Homo sapiens: one gene and its partner. The protein of the gene in region 1 interacts with the protein of each later gene in a pairwise test. Each region holds a gene or a part of one and is shown on either strand. Other genes may lie near its edges.

The links.
Region 2: the proteins of NDFIP1 (region 1) and NTRK2 interact in a protein complementation assay, tested with the Homo sapiens proteins (one study listed by BioGRID).

The regions. Positions count from the first base shown.
Region 1 is NC_000005.10:142,104,111-142,111,801, reverse strand, and holds the start of NDFIP1 (NEDD4 family-interacting protein 1), read right to left. Parts: upstream 3,024-7,691; 5' UTR 2,828-3,023; coding exon 2,765-2,827; intron 1-2,764. UniProt on the Homo sapiens protein: Activates HECT domain-containing E3 ubiquitin-protein ligases, including NEDD4 and ITCH, and consequently modulates the stability of their targets. As a result, controls many cellular processes.
Region 2 is NC_000009.12:85,022,697-85,027,556, reverse strand, and holds the end of NTRK2 (BDNF/NT-3 growth factors receptor isoform a precursor), read right to left. Parts: 3' UTR 503-4,860; downstream 1-502. UniProt on the Homo sapiens protein: Receptor tyrosine kinase involved in the development and the maturation of the central and the peripheral nervous systems through regulation of neuron survival, proliferation, migration, differentiation, and synapse formation and plasticity.

The DNA of each region.
Region 1 (7,691 bases):
AGCCACCACACCTGGTTGAGCCTACCCTTTCTGCATAGTCTGTCACTATGCTAAATTCAAGTTGTCCACATATTACACTACCAATAAAAAGACCATAAAGACAAAACTGTGTTTGCATTTATGAATGAATCATACAGTTTTCCATTACATTTACTTGGTGAGAAAACTAGCTCAATTTGATTAACCAGATCAAATAGAAGTCAGAACAGCCCTGTGTGACAACCAAAGAGTATCATGCTCCTATCAAGTTGCCTGGACAATTCACCATCATTCTATAATTCAAAAGCCTTTTAAAAATGCATATTCGCTGACCAGGCATTTCCATGGCTAGTAATTTATGCTAAGGAAACGGTTGAAGACGTATGTGAAATAAATTTCAATGAAAAAAACTGTAAACATTCTTAGTGACCAAAGATAAGCAATTAGTTAAATTATGATTCAGCCATACAATTACATGCCATGCAGACATTAAAAATATTTTATATAGAAGACATTAATAACATTGTGTGAAGAACATTACAAAATAGAATTATGAACCTATTTCATTATTTATCTAGCATGCCTTTGTAGATACATGTGCATGATACACATGTGCAAATGTATGAATGCACATGTCTGAGAACAAGATACACATGGACACGTGCAAAAGTATGTGCAAGTATGATCGGGGCTCATAAAACTGCACACAAATGTACAAAGATATGTCTGTATACGTATATATGGGTACATAAGAGAATACATATGCATGTGTATATATCTGCTAATGCATACACCTATATCTGGACTGTGAGCCTGTGTTTTAAGTAGGTGAGTGTGTGTATATCCTTATAATCACTACTTAGCAGCCTGTGACCTTGAGGCAAGTTACTGAGCCACTTTGAGTCTTTGACAATGAGAACAAACCCTGGTTCATAAGGGTTTGGTATGAATTAAAAGAAAAAAAAAATGGATGTAAATTACTTAATACTGTGATTGTTGCATAAAAAAATCAATATTAGCTTTCCTGCATTCCTTATCTGTACACACATATACTGATCTATAACTATGTATATTTACATAGCTATAAACCCACAAGAATGCACATTAAAATATTACCTTTGGTTATCTATTTGGTTTTTGTTTAGGGAGGGTTTTGCAGTTTTTTGGGCTTTCATCTTTTACAATTTTTCTAGGAAGATTTTTTTCTCTTTTTTTTATACTTCAATTCTGCATAATTAAAAAATATTAAATGCCACACTAAGGAATACATGATTTTGATACTCCAGCAAATTTTTTATATTCTAGCAGTATGTCAGCATTACCTAATAGCTCAAGAAGATGGCAGTACAAAGAAAAACCACAGCTCTTTTGCTCGTTAGCCTTATCCAAGTCAGGATGAAAAGGATGAAATCAGATGACAGTATACAGTAGGGGTGATTTGCAAACACTGTGGTGACAGTTAAGTGGCATCTGTTATTCCCATTTTATTAAAGCAGTAAGGAACCCGCAGGCTGCCCAAGGTCATAGAAAAAAAGCATGTGCTAGATCCATGTGCTCTGAAGAGATCTAAGGATTAACTGCATTGCCACAATTTGGGCCGTGTTTATAAAACCAAGAAGTGAAATTCTTAACTAGTCATTTTGGGAGTCCAAGCCTGAGTGGGGACGGATTGCAACACATGGCTGATGATAGCAAAACAAACCAGTAACCGGCCGGCCGCACCAGGGTTAATCTACGTTTTCATCGTACTGGCTGGCTTTCCTTACTTCTAAAATATAAAATTGTAGATCGTCTAAGATAGGACATTTTATTTGATAAAAGGAGGATTGACATCTGTATGCACCGAAAGCATCTGAAACATGACAAACACAAGCCGTTATTTGCGGTTCCAATCAACATCAGTTTACCACCTGGCTCAATTCCCACCATTACTGTATGTTAGATTAACACTTCCAAAAACCCTGCAGAAGGTCTCTAAATTTCCTGGGGGAACTTAGCTACAGACGCGGAGTGAAACAAGCAGCTCTTTTCCCTGGGGCCTCAATGTATTAAATCAAACCCGAGAAAATGATCCAATCATTTCCTATACATTTCCTCCCCAGCTATGCCATCAAATCTCTTAAAACGTCACTTCCAAGCATTTAAAATACACCCGGCACACGCCCTGCAGACTTCATCGTAGCTCTCCCTTTTGGGGCATCACCACAGCCAAACATCGCCTCTTCCAAATCTACTGCAAACTGCGGGCTTGTCTCTTGCTTCATTTTTTACTTTTGTCTTAAAACGGAGGCGAGGGGGATGGGTTTCGACAAACTAGGCTCTGAAACCCTGAGCAATAGCATCTTGCTGTGGGGAGCTATCGGCAGCAGCAGAGATTTTAATCTTTTCTCTCCACCCAGTTTCCGTTTCATGCTTTTTTCTTTCTTTCTTTTCCAATGACATCAAACCAAAGGTGGAAAAATGAAAAACGAATGCCTCAGATCGATGCCGCCTGTGGGTCGCGGGTTCTGACTCAGGGACCCGCCCGCCCTGGGAAATGCGGGAAACGAGGCCGGGAGGAGGACTTTCCACCGCCGGAGTCCCACCTGGGGTCGCAGACGGGCAGGCCGGGCCCGTGGCAGCCTCGAATCCGAGCCCGGGGCCCGACCCGCCCCTCCAGGCCCAGCGCGGCCTGCCAAGCCCCGGCGTCGAGTTGGCCGCGGGCCGGCCAGAGAGGCCTGAGGCGGCCAGCGGGCAGGGCAGAGCCAGGGACCGGAGTTCGGGGCTGGAGTCGGGCGCCGCTTACCTGCTGGTACCGGCTGCCGCAGGCCGGCTCGACCGCCGCCAGCGCCGCCAACGCCAACGCCATGGCGCAGCCGGCAGCAGGGAAGCAGAGCGAGCGAGCGAGCTAGCTGAAGGGGCGCGGCCGCTGCGGCTTGGGAGCGCTGGGAGGCCGAGGGGGACGCGCCTTGGGTGGGTCTCGATGGCCGCCGCCGCTCCCGGGCGAGACGCTCTTCTCAGGCTGTAAGCACCGCCGCCGCCGCCGAGGCTCCGACGCGGCCCCTGGGGAAGAGGCGGGGACTACGACGACGGCGCTGCGCCGCCGCCCCACCCCCGACTCGCGCCGCCCTGCCCGGCCCGGCCCGGCCTAGCCTAGTCCTGCGCCGCCGCCCCGAGGTGCACCGGCCCTGGTGTAGTTGCTCCGACGACCTGAGCCTCCGAGGCTCAAGTGTTGTATTCGATTCCACTAAAAACGAATTACTAACAGGCCAGCCCAAAGCAAGGGCGATGCTGCTGATGAGCACCTCGTGCCAAGCACTGAGCTTCACCTACGTGCCCTCATCCAGCCTTCAGCACAACCGCCCTGACGCAGGGACCACAACCCCATTCTCGAGGTCGTTGGCAACCAGAGAGGTTGACAATCTTCACAGCAGCGACCTGATCCCTCGTGTCTGGCAGCAGAATCGTGGTTCTTATTCACTCCCTTCTTTTATCTGCCGTACTCATAAACCAGGGGTCAGCCAGCGACAGGGAGGGGGCCAAATCCGGTCTGCCACCATGACTGTGAAAAGTACATGAAATTCAAGTTTCAGTGTCCATAAATAAAGTTTTATTGGAACACAGCAGCACCCATTTGTTTGGTATGGCCTGCAAACCCTATAATACTTGCTATCTGACATTTTACAGAAAAAGTTTGCTAACCCTAAATCCTTGAGAACTGCTTGGATCTCAAATCCTACTTAGGGTGGATGATTATAATAGCATCCTCATGTTTATGCCATCCTTTAGTATTTTAACAGCCTCATCTGCGGAATCGGAAACAATATTTTCCAAAAAAGCTCCCTGACTCGGTGACATGAAGTCAAAACTTGAAGGGTTTGGCCATGCTAAAGGCTTTCCCGACCACAGGAACAGGTGCAAAGGGCGGTCCAGAGAGAGATTGTCTTGTGGAAGAACAGAAAGGAGGCTGGCATAGCTGCCATATAGGAGATACAATTATCAGTGTTTCACAGATGAGGAAGTTATGCCCAAAGAAATTAAATATCTCACCCAATGACACAGAGCTACTAAGGGGTGAAGCTGGAATACAACTCCATTAAGCCAGCTTTCTTACCCAGTATTGCACAACTAAATTATAAGCTTTGTGAAGACAAGAGTATTTGTCTTTTAAATCTTATTACCTCCCAATGCCATGTAGCACAGTATAGCTATATAGCAGGCTTGCAAGGTCTGTTTCTTTCACACCCAGCCATCTGCAATTGCTTCTACCCACATGTCCTACAGAGAAAAACAAAATCTTCCATCTCTGAAGCTTGTTGCAATTCCCATTTCTTCTTCATTGCCTTTCCAAGTTGGCAGTGTAGAGGTTATATTAATATGATTATTGTCTTAGCTTCTAATTTTGAAGTTTAGTTAATTATGTATTTTAAAAGAGAACTGTGTTTAGAACACACCCTGAGGTTTCTGTATATATGAGAAAATTGTAATCAATAAAAACTCTAGATGTTTACCATCTTCACTTTGAGTTCTCTCTCAGCATCCAAACTCCTCTATATCTGTCGCTATTTCCAAGTATTAGTCTCACATATTAACATGCTGGGAGAGCGAACAAATGTAGCAACATTCCAAGCTCTCAAGTCTATTTAGAGCCTCCTTACTCTGTCCCTCAGTTGTTGTTTATAATCCAGAAAAACAACATTTAAATGTAATCAGGTACAGTGAATCAAACATAATGTCCTGCCATGTAGTCTTGTATAAAGGGTGCAAAAATCTAATTTGAAATTTTTTAAAATGTCAGCAGTGGAAAGTAGAAATCCAGACTTCTTTGTCCAGATTGTCTACATTTACGTGTAAGAAAGAATAAAAAAGAATGTCCACTGGGCACAGTGGCTCACATCTGTAATCTCAGCACTTTGAGAGCCTGAGACTCGAGGATCACGTGAGCCCAGGAGCCAGGAGTTCGAGACCAACCTGGGCAACATAGTGAGACACAATCTCTGAAAAAAAAAAAGAAAAAGAAAAAAGAATTTGTCGGCCTACCACATAAGGCTATTGGAGCAACAACTGCAATCTTTATGCATGTCTGCAGTGCTGTGGCTTTTGTGGAAAAGATGTTGCTACCCTTCTATTTCTTTCCTAAATTACTTTCTCCCTCAATATCTATATACTCCCTGCATGTGGACACAAATATTTATCATAATATAAATAACAGGCTTTATCATAGAAATATTTTGCATTGAAAGTAAAAGAAAATTGATCTCCAACTTCTAATCTCCTTTTCCTATGTCCTCAACCAAAATGTTTTGTAGTCACGGTAAAGATTTTGGTCTTTTTTTTCTTGAGTTCCCCAAAGCCTCTAATAAGTAAATTGAGATTATTTGCCTTGATTTGATGGGTGGATAAATTGGAGAATTGAGAAATTGAGTCACTGCTATATTAGGCCTCCAGCTGGCAGGCAAATTGTACAACGAAGGGGAAAACTGAATTTCTGGCTCACAGATCCATGCCTGGTGCAAGCCAAGCAGACAGAGAAGATAATCCAAAGCCATAAAAATTGTGCTCTTTGGCTTCATCTCGAGATGTTGTCAAGAGAGTTTCCACAGAGAAAGTTATTAATTTCAGATTGCTGCACTTAGAAACTTATTTCCCCACAGAATAACAGTAATACTTTCCATGTGCAGTACTGCATATGTGAATTGCTGACTCTGAATCATCCCTCCTGAGAGAGAAAAGAAACATGGACAAGTATAAGCATAACTCATGTCCGTATCCCTTTCCCCCTGCAATATAGATACAAATCTCTAGGATAAATGTGACCTTCTGTCTTTCATATCCACATGAGGCTTGACCTAGGTAGTGCAGAGCTCAGTAAGTAACCAAGAAGGGTTTGTTAAATGTGTTAAATTTAGACAAAAGCCTCATTAGTCTAATATCTCATTTGAGGCCTTGAACTTCTCCAGCTAGTCTTCACAGGGCTCCAATTAAACCATGAAGTTTTATTTCTATGACTTACTACTTCTTTTAATTCTCACTACATTACCACAAGGTTCATTAAGAGCAAAAGGTAATATCTTCATATTACAAATAAAGAAATTATCCACTGATAATTACTACTGTTATGGAGCACTTCCAGAATCTTGGACCTGATGGTACATCATCTGCTTAATCTTCATAACAAACCCATTCTGCAGATTCTTGAAGAGACTCAGGAAATTTACATAACCTACTCAGCTTTGTGAGCGGTGGAGTCGAAACGCAAACTGGGATTTGTCTGGCTCCAAAATGTATGCACTGCTTTGGGTGTGGAGAGAAATACGGGACATAAATAGACAGGAGATAGAAAGTTCTAACCTTTGGAGTCTTCATGATGAAATAGAGATGATAGTAAACACTTATTTGAGACATTTTTAAAATATAAAACTTACAAGTTATTTACAACTGTGTTGAGCTATATTAACTAATGCTGAGAGATAGTGAAGAGAATTATGTGGCCAGCTGGGATAATCAGGTAAGGATTGGGAAGAAAGGGTTTTGAACGAGAAAAGGGCTTTGTTGGCCAGGTGTGGTGGCTCACGCCTGTAATCCCAGCACTTTGGGAGGCCGAGGCGGGAGGATCACCTGAGGTTGGGAGTTGGAGACCAGCCTGACCATCATGGAGAAACCCCATCTCTACTAAAAATACAAAAAACTTAGCCGGGCGTGGTGGTACATGCCTGTAATCCCAGCTACTTGGGAGGCTAAGGCAGGAGAATCACTTGAACCTGAGAGGCGGAGGTTGCAGTGAGCCGAGATCGCGCCATTGCACTCCAGCCTGGGCAACAAGAGTGAAACTTCATCTAAAAAAAAAAAACAGAAAGAAATAAAAGGGCTTTGCTGTCATGGGAAGAGAGAAAGTTGTCAACCTGAAATAACAACAGAGAGATTCTCCAAAGACAGTGAGTTTATTTGTGAATCCTCAAGATTGCAATCTGGGATATGTATGCACCTCATGAAGGGCCATGGATGTACCCAGAGAGGGAAAGGAAGGCAAAGGTTTTAAAGGCAAAATGAGCAAGGTTACATAAGTTGTTTTGAAACTATTAACCTTGGCTACAAGGATCAATAACAAGGGTGGTATCACTCCAAGGCTGAACAGACAGTTCCTAGGCAGACGTCTTTGTGTAAAGTTGTGGTGGCCTTGTTCAAGGTTGTGGTTTTCAGAAAGTGTAACCTAAAAATAGATTTTAACGTAGACATGTGTGCATGAGAGCCCCTCCTTTATGGCCTCCCGACTCCTATTTGTCGGGGTATAGAATAAGTGACTCCATTTTGATTCTTACAACTTTCACAAACTCATGAGTATAATTGTACAAAAGCTTAGAACTTAGTTTAGAACAAAATCTTAGAACTTAGCAAACTTTTAATGTTAAGGAATAGATAGAAATATTTTAGGCTTTGTGAACCATAAGCTCTGTTGCAGCTACTCCACTTTGCCATTGTATTGTGAACACAGCCATAAACAATGCCAAAGTGGCAAGACTGTGTTCCAATAAAGTCTTATTTATGATCATTGAAATGTGAATTACGTATGATTTATTTTTTTATTTTTTTTATTTTTGAGATGGAGTCTCACTCTATCGCCCAGGCTGGATGGAGTGCAGTGGCATGTTCTTGGCTTACCACAAACTTCGCCTCCTGGGTTCAAGAGATTCTCCTGCCTTAGCCTCCCGAGTAGCTGGGATTACAGGCACCTG
Region 2 (4,860 bases), on another chromosome or scaffold:
TATTGTTTCAGAAAGTAAAGCAATTGACAGTGATGTTCTAGTTATCTAAGGTGTAAGTTGAAAATATCAGAATTATGGATAGATCAGACAGGAAACTTATTTCTATGACTAACCACTTACTCTCACTACCTTCAACTAATGAGCACTACAGGCATCTACAGTGATCCTATCTAAAAATACATACATATAGCTGGGTGCAGTGGTGTGCACCTATAGTCCCAGGGAGTCAGAAGGCTAAGGCAGGAGGATGGCTTGAGCCCAGGGAGTCAGAAGGCTAAGGCAGGAGGATGGCTTGAGCCCAGGGGTTTGAGTCTGCAGTGAGCTATGATCATGCTTGTGAATAGCCAGTGCACTCCAGCCTGGGCAACATTACAAGAACCTGTCTTTAAACAAAACCAAAACCAAACACAGACATATATACATATAGAATAAAGAGAACACCATGCTTGTGGAAATTCTATACATTTTTAAAAATTAATCATCATGTCATTTTTAGTCTCTCTTTTGGAGTATGTTATTTATTGTAAGACATCATTTTTATTAAATACACTGTAGTACAAGAGACTTTCCATGTCAGGTTGAGAGAAGCTGGTCACATGATTTACAAACAAAACTTTTTTTTTTTTAAACACTGTATTCAGGTGTCACTTTGAAATCAGCCAAGATGCAGTGGGTCTTAGTAAAGCAATGGACCTCAAAACAGATTGCAAAACAAGAACTGGTAAGTATTAGCACAGAGACATCACATTAAAAGGAAGATAAGCCAAATGAAAAGGAGAGTTCCAAATACCAGGTCACGATTGAAGGGGAAATATATCTGTAGAGAGATATGGAAATGTGTGTGTATACGGCCTGGATATATACAAACATCTCTCCAGATACAGAAGCAAATGCAGAATGTCCACATCTCCAGGCAGATTTGTAAGTCATAGGTAATGATCAAAGAACGCAGGGAGCAATAGTTCACCATAATTTGGTCATTTGTCAAGGGATTACATATTTAAAATCCACATTTAATTCAAAGACCTTGTATTTAAAACATTTCCAGCTGCTTTATACATTTTTTAAGCAATAGTAAGATATACAAGCTGCAAGATATAGGCCTTTACATTTCATTTTCTGTAATATTTTTCCTGTTCAAACACATGGCTACTAGCAGCTTTTATGATGCTTGCTCCAGTACATTGAACGTTCAGCTAACCTCCACTCAGGATCATTTTCATTAATGCATAGACTAAAGAAATAAATAAACATGGACCTGGCCTCAAACGCATAGACTAAAAAATGACATCCCCATCTTTTCTCATTTCGTCTCCTGAGATGTATGTTAAGATGGCAAAATAGTTGCTTGGTGGTGGTTGTTGTGAAATTCACAGTGTTTTGCCTACAACACATATACAGATATATATATATATATTTTTTTTTTTGCTTTGCTTTGTGTTTGTGCTGAATGGAGCAAAAGTATATAAATAAATAAATAAATACATAATTAAATAAATAAAGGTCAAAGGAAAAGGAGGGGAAATGCAAAAACTAAGGATATTCAAGAACCTTTGACTTGAGCAGCAGTGATTCATTCCAGCCCTGACAACAAGAAAATACCCCTTCCTGCACTGTCGTTTCTAACTATAAATCCCTCCCACCCCTCATTCTTTAGAATGACATTTGAAATTCATGTACAAGCTATCACAACCTCAGAGGCTCCACATTCCAATTATGCATCATAAAAAATCAGCTGTAACTACTAACTTAGACATTTGGAGAGTTGGGTCACTAGCCATTCCTCTCATGAGATTTCCTATAACAGTGATATATGGCCAAACCAAAGGTCAACATTGAAAATAAAAGTCCTGAGACAGGGGATGAAAAAGAAAATGGGGAAGCAAGAGAATTGAGGGTATGTGTGTATATGCAGTCATTTATTTAGTTAGATACAACAATGTTATTGGTATTACAGGCAGTCCAATTTGTGAAAAGAAAGATTCAAAGAAAGTCCATACTTGACCAGGTAATCCTGCTGTTAGGACGCTTTGAAAAGGACAGCATTCTATACTGTTAGTTGGTGCATTCACTCTAGGATGTGGGAATTCCTAAGAGTTGCTCATCTCGCTGTGGGGTCTTGGACTGCTCATCATTGGCCTTCAAGCCACTGGGCTGCCAACATTCCAATTTATATTTGGAATGCTTGAACTCTGAACTCAAGTGTAAAGGGGTCACAGTGAGACAGAGACAAGGTGAGCATAATACAAATGTGCTGAAAGACAAAAAGAAAGCAATGTTCCTTTCCTGGACCATTACAAAAAGTATCTTTCTTTGCAAGGAGCCAGAGAAAGCACTCAATGTAGTGGGATGGCTTTTATTCAGTTGTTTTGGGAAGCACATTATCTTAAATATGTCTTCCACCCATGCAGTACTGCACAGAGTTGAAAAGTGTGATGTAGTCCTACCCACGTGGAGTATGGAAGCACTAACAGCAACATGACGTTAAACAGTTTTGGTTATTTAGCATATTTTAAGCAAATTATTCATACCGCATCCTACTTATAATTACCTCTATTATTGTGTGCCTATAAATTTATACATAAACACACAAACACACTACGTATGTGCATTTGTATATGTATAAATCAAGTATTTATAACACATACATAAATACATGAAAACATCACAGGTAGCGCTGATGTGAACACATGTATAATATGAATTCTGATATAATCTTTTATAGCATAGTTCAAAGTGTTTTCTAAATAAGCCTGATTATGACATTGGTTCAGTGTACAAGAATTTAGCTGAATTTAGCTGAAGCTAAGAGCATGATTATATATCACAATATCTCAGTTGCTTGTCATCTCCTGTATTTCCTTTTGTTCTTCTAACTTCATATACTGCTTCATGAATGTGTTAGCATGCTTTCTTTCCTGAACTGCTTGTTTGCATATTAGAGTCTCTAGTGGACAGAACCACGAAGTTCAGAGTGAGAGTACTTGGATTCAGTCCCAATGGTGCTGGAAGCTAGGCTGGAGACCTCTAGCGTGCCTCTGAATGTCTCTGAGTCTCAACGTCCTCATCTACACAAAATAGGAATAATTTGCTAACACACATGGAAAGTGTTTGGAAAACTATTCAATGACTTCTAAATGGAAATGATTGTCAGACCAGGTTTGGGCTAGAGAATTAGGTTTGTCACTGTTATACTGTTGTAGTTTTCACAAATTTGATGGAAGGCCGTATTTGGTGATCATTACATTTTAGAACGAGGATGCCACTCTTCTAAAAATCAGACCATGAGAAAGGGGGTGGTGGAGGAACAACAATGAATAATTTCAGATATTCTGTGGCTCGTTCAGCTACTTTAAAAGCAATCTGATATTCTTTCAATTTGAGATGTCTCTGAAATCAGCACATACTCTTAAGACAACAGAGATAGTAATAGTAATAATCAGCAATAAAAATAACTATAAAACTTTGCACTTGCATAGAACCTTTTATTTCAAGACCTTTAGGGACTTGTCAGAAGGTATAAGTGGAATTTTATTTTATTTTTTGCTTTTTTCTTTCAGAGAAAAAAAAGACAAAACTGGAATGGGATGCTCCCAAAGTCTCATTTGCCTTAAACAAATCTTTGCTCTAAAATTGCACATTCCTCCTTGAATTTGATCCCTTAAATTATTACCTACTTTATTCTCTTAAAATAAAATAAATAACTTGTAGCTTTTCCCCCGAGATTAGCTGGCCAGACATGCAGCGTGACAAACCTGTGTTGGTTTTTGCTGATGGAATCTAGAAAAGTTTTTGTACAAATCTGCCCCTTCCTTACTGCGTCACAGAGTTCTACAGTGTTTTAAGAGTACCATGGGTCCTTAATATGATACATACATGCACATGTATGTATATATATGTGCACATATATATCATGGAGATATGGCTTTCATTATGTTATTATGTGTATTCTAGAGGGTTTTTTTAAAATCATCAACAAAGAGAACAAACGACCCAACTCTCATCTCTCATAGGCCAGCATATAACTTGAATGGACGTAAGGTTTATCTTGTCAACTCCCTCGCTTGACTGCAGTTGCTACTGGATTTCCTTTTGTTCTGTTAATTTGCACTTTTGAATTTTTGAGAATTGGCTTTCAAAGCCTTTAATGAAAAATAAGGTGTTCCAGTAATTAACAGGCGCAAGCAAAACCTAAAACAGAGCTATCGCACCTTCAGAAACAAATATGAAATAACATGACCTAAGATGAATGAAAATCACTCCCTTTCAATCTGGCTCATGTTATAAAGATGTCAAGTTTAGCAAAATTCCCCTCACAGAGGGTAGCAAGTTTTCTTGAGGAACAGAAATATTTTTCTTTCTTGGTATATCTGACCATTCAAATAGCTGTAAATTTCTATTTAAATTTGAGCCCTCTTTTTGCAAAACCAATGACTATGCCTAGAAGCACACTTCCAGTGCTTGGTCTGGGCACAGCCTCCCGTTGGCATGCTGTGCCAAATTTTGTATTTTGACTTTTTGAATGGAGTGAAGGAAACAAAAACAGCATACTGACAATGGAGTACACTTGGAATGAAACCACTCTCCCAACTAGAGCCCAGAGCAAGGGACTTGACCTGTGTACACTGAACATGAGTGCATGTGATGCCCTCAGGGTGAGGTTTCCTTTCCCTTAGGGATTGATTCTGCCCTTCCCACAGTCCTGTGGGTTCGACGTGGATGAGGATTTCCAGGCTTCAGGGTCCATATTCATTAAAACCCATCACCACCGTACAACGCAGAGACATTGATACTCAGCTAATAAACTCCATTAGCTTCCCCTAATTGTATAAGTCATACCTTTTTATGGATCTGCTCTAC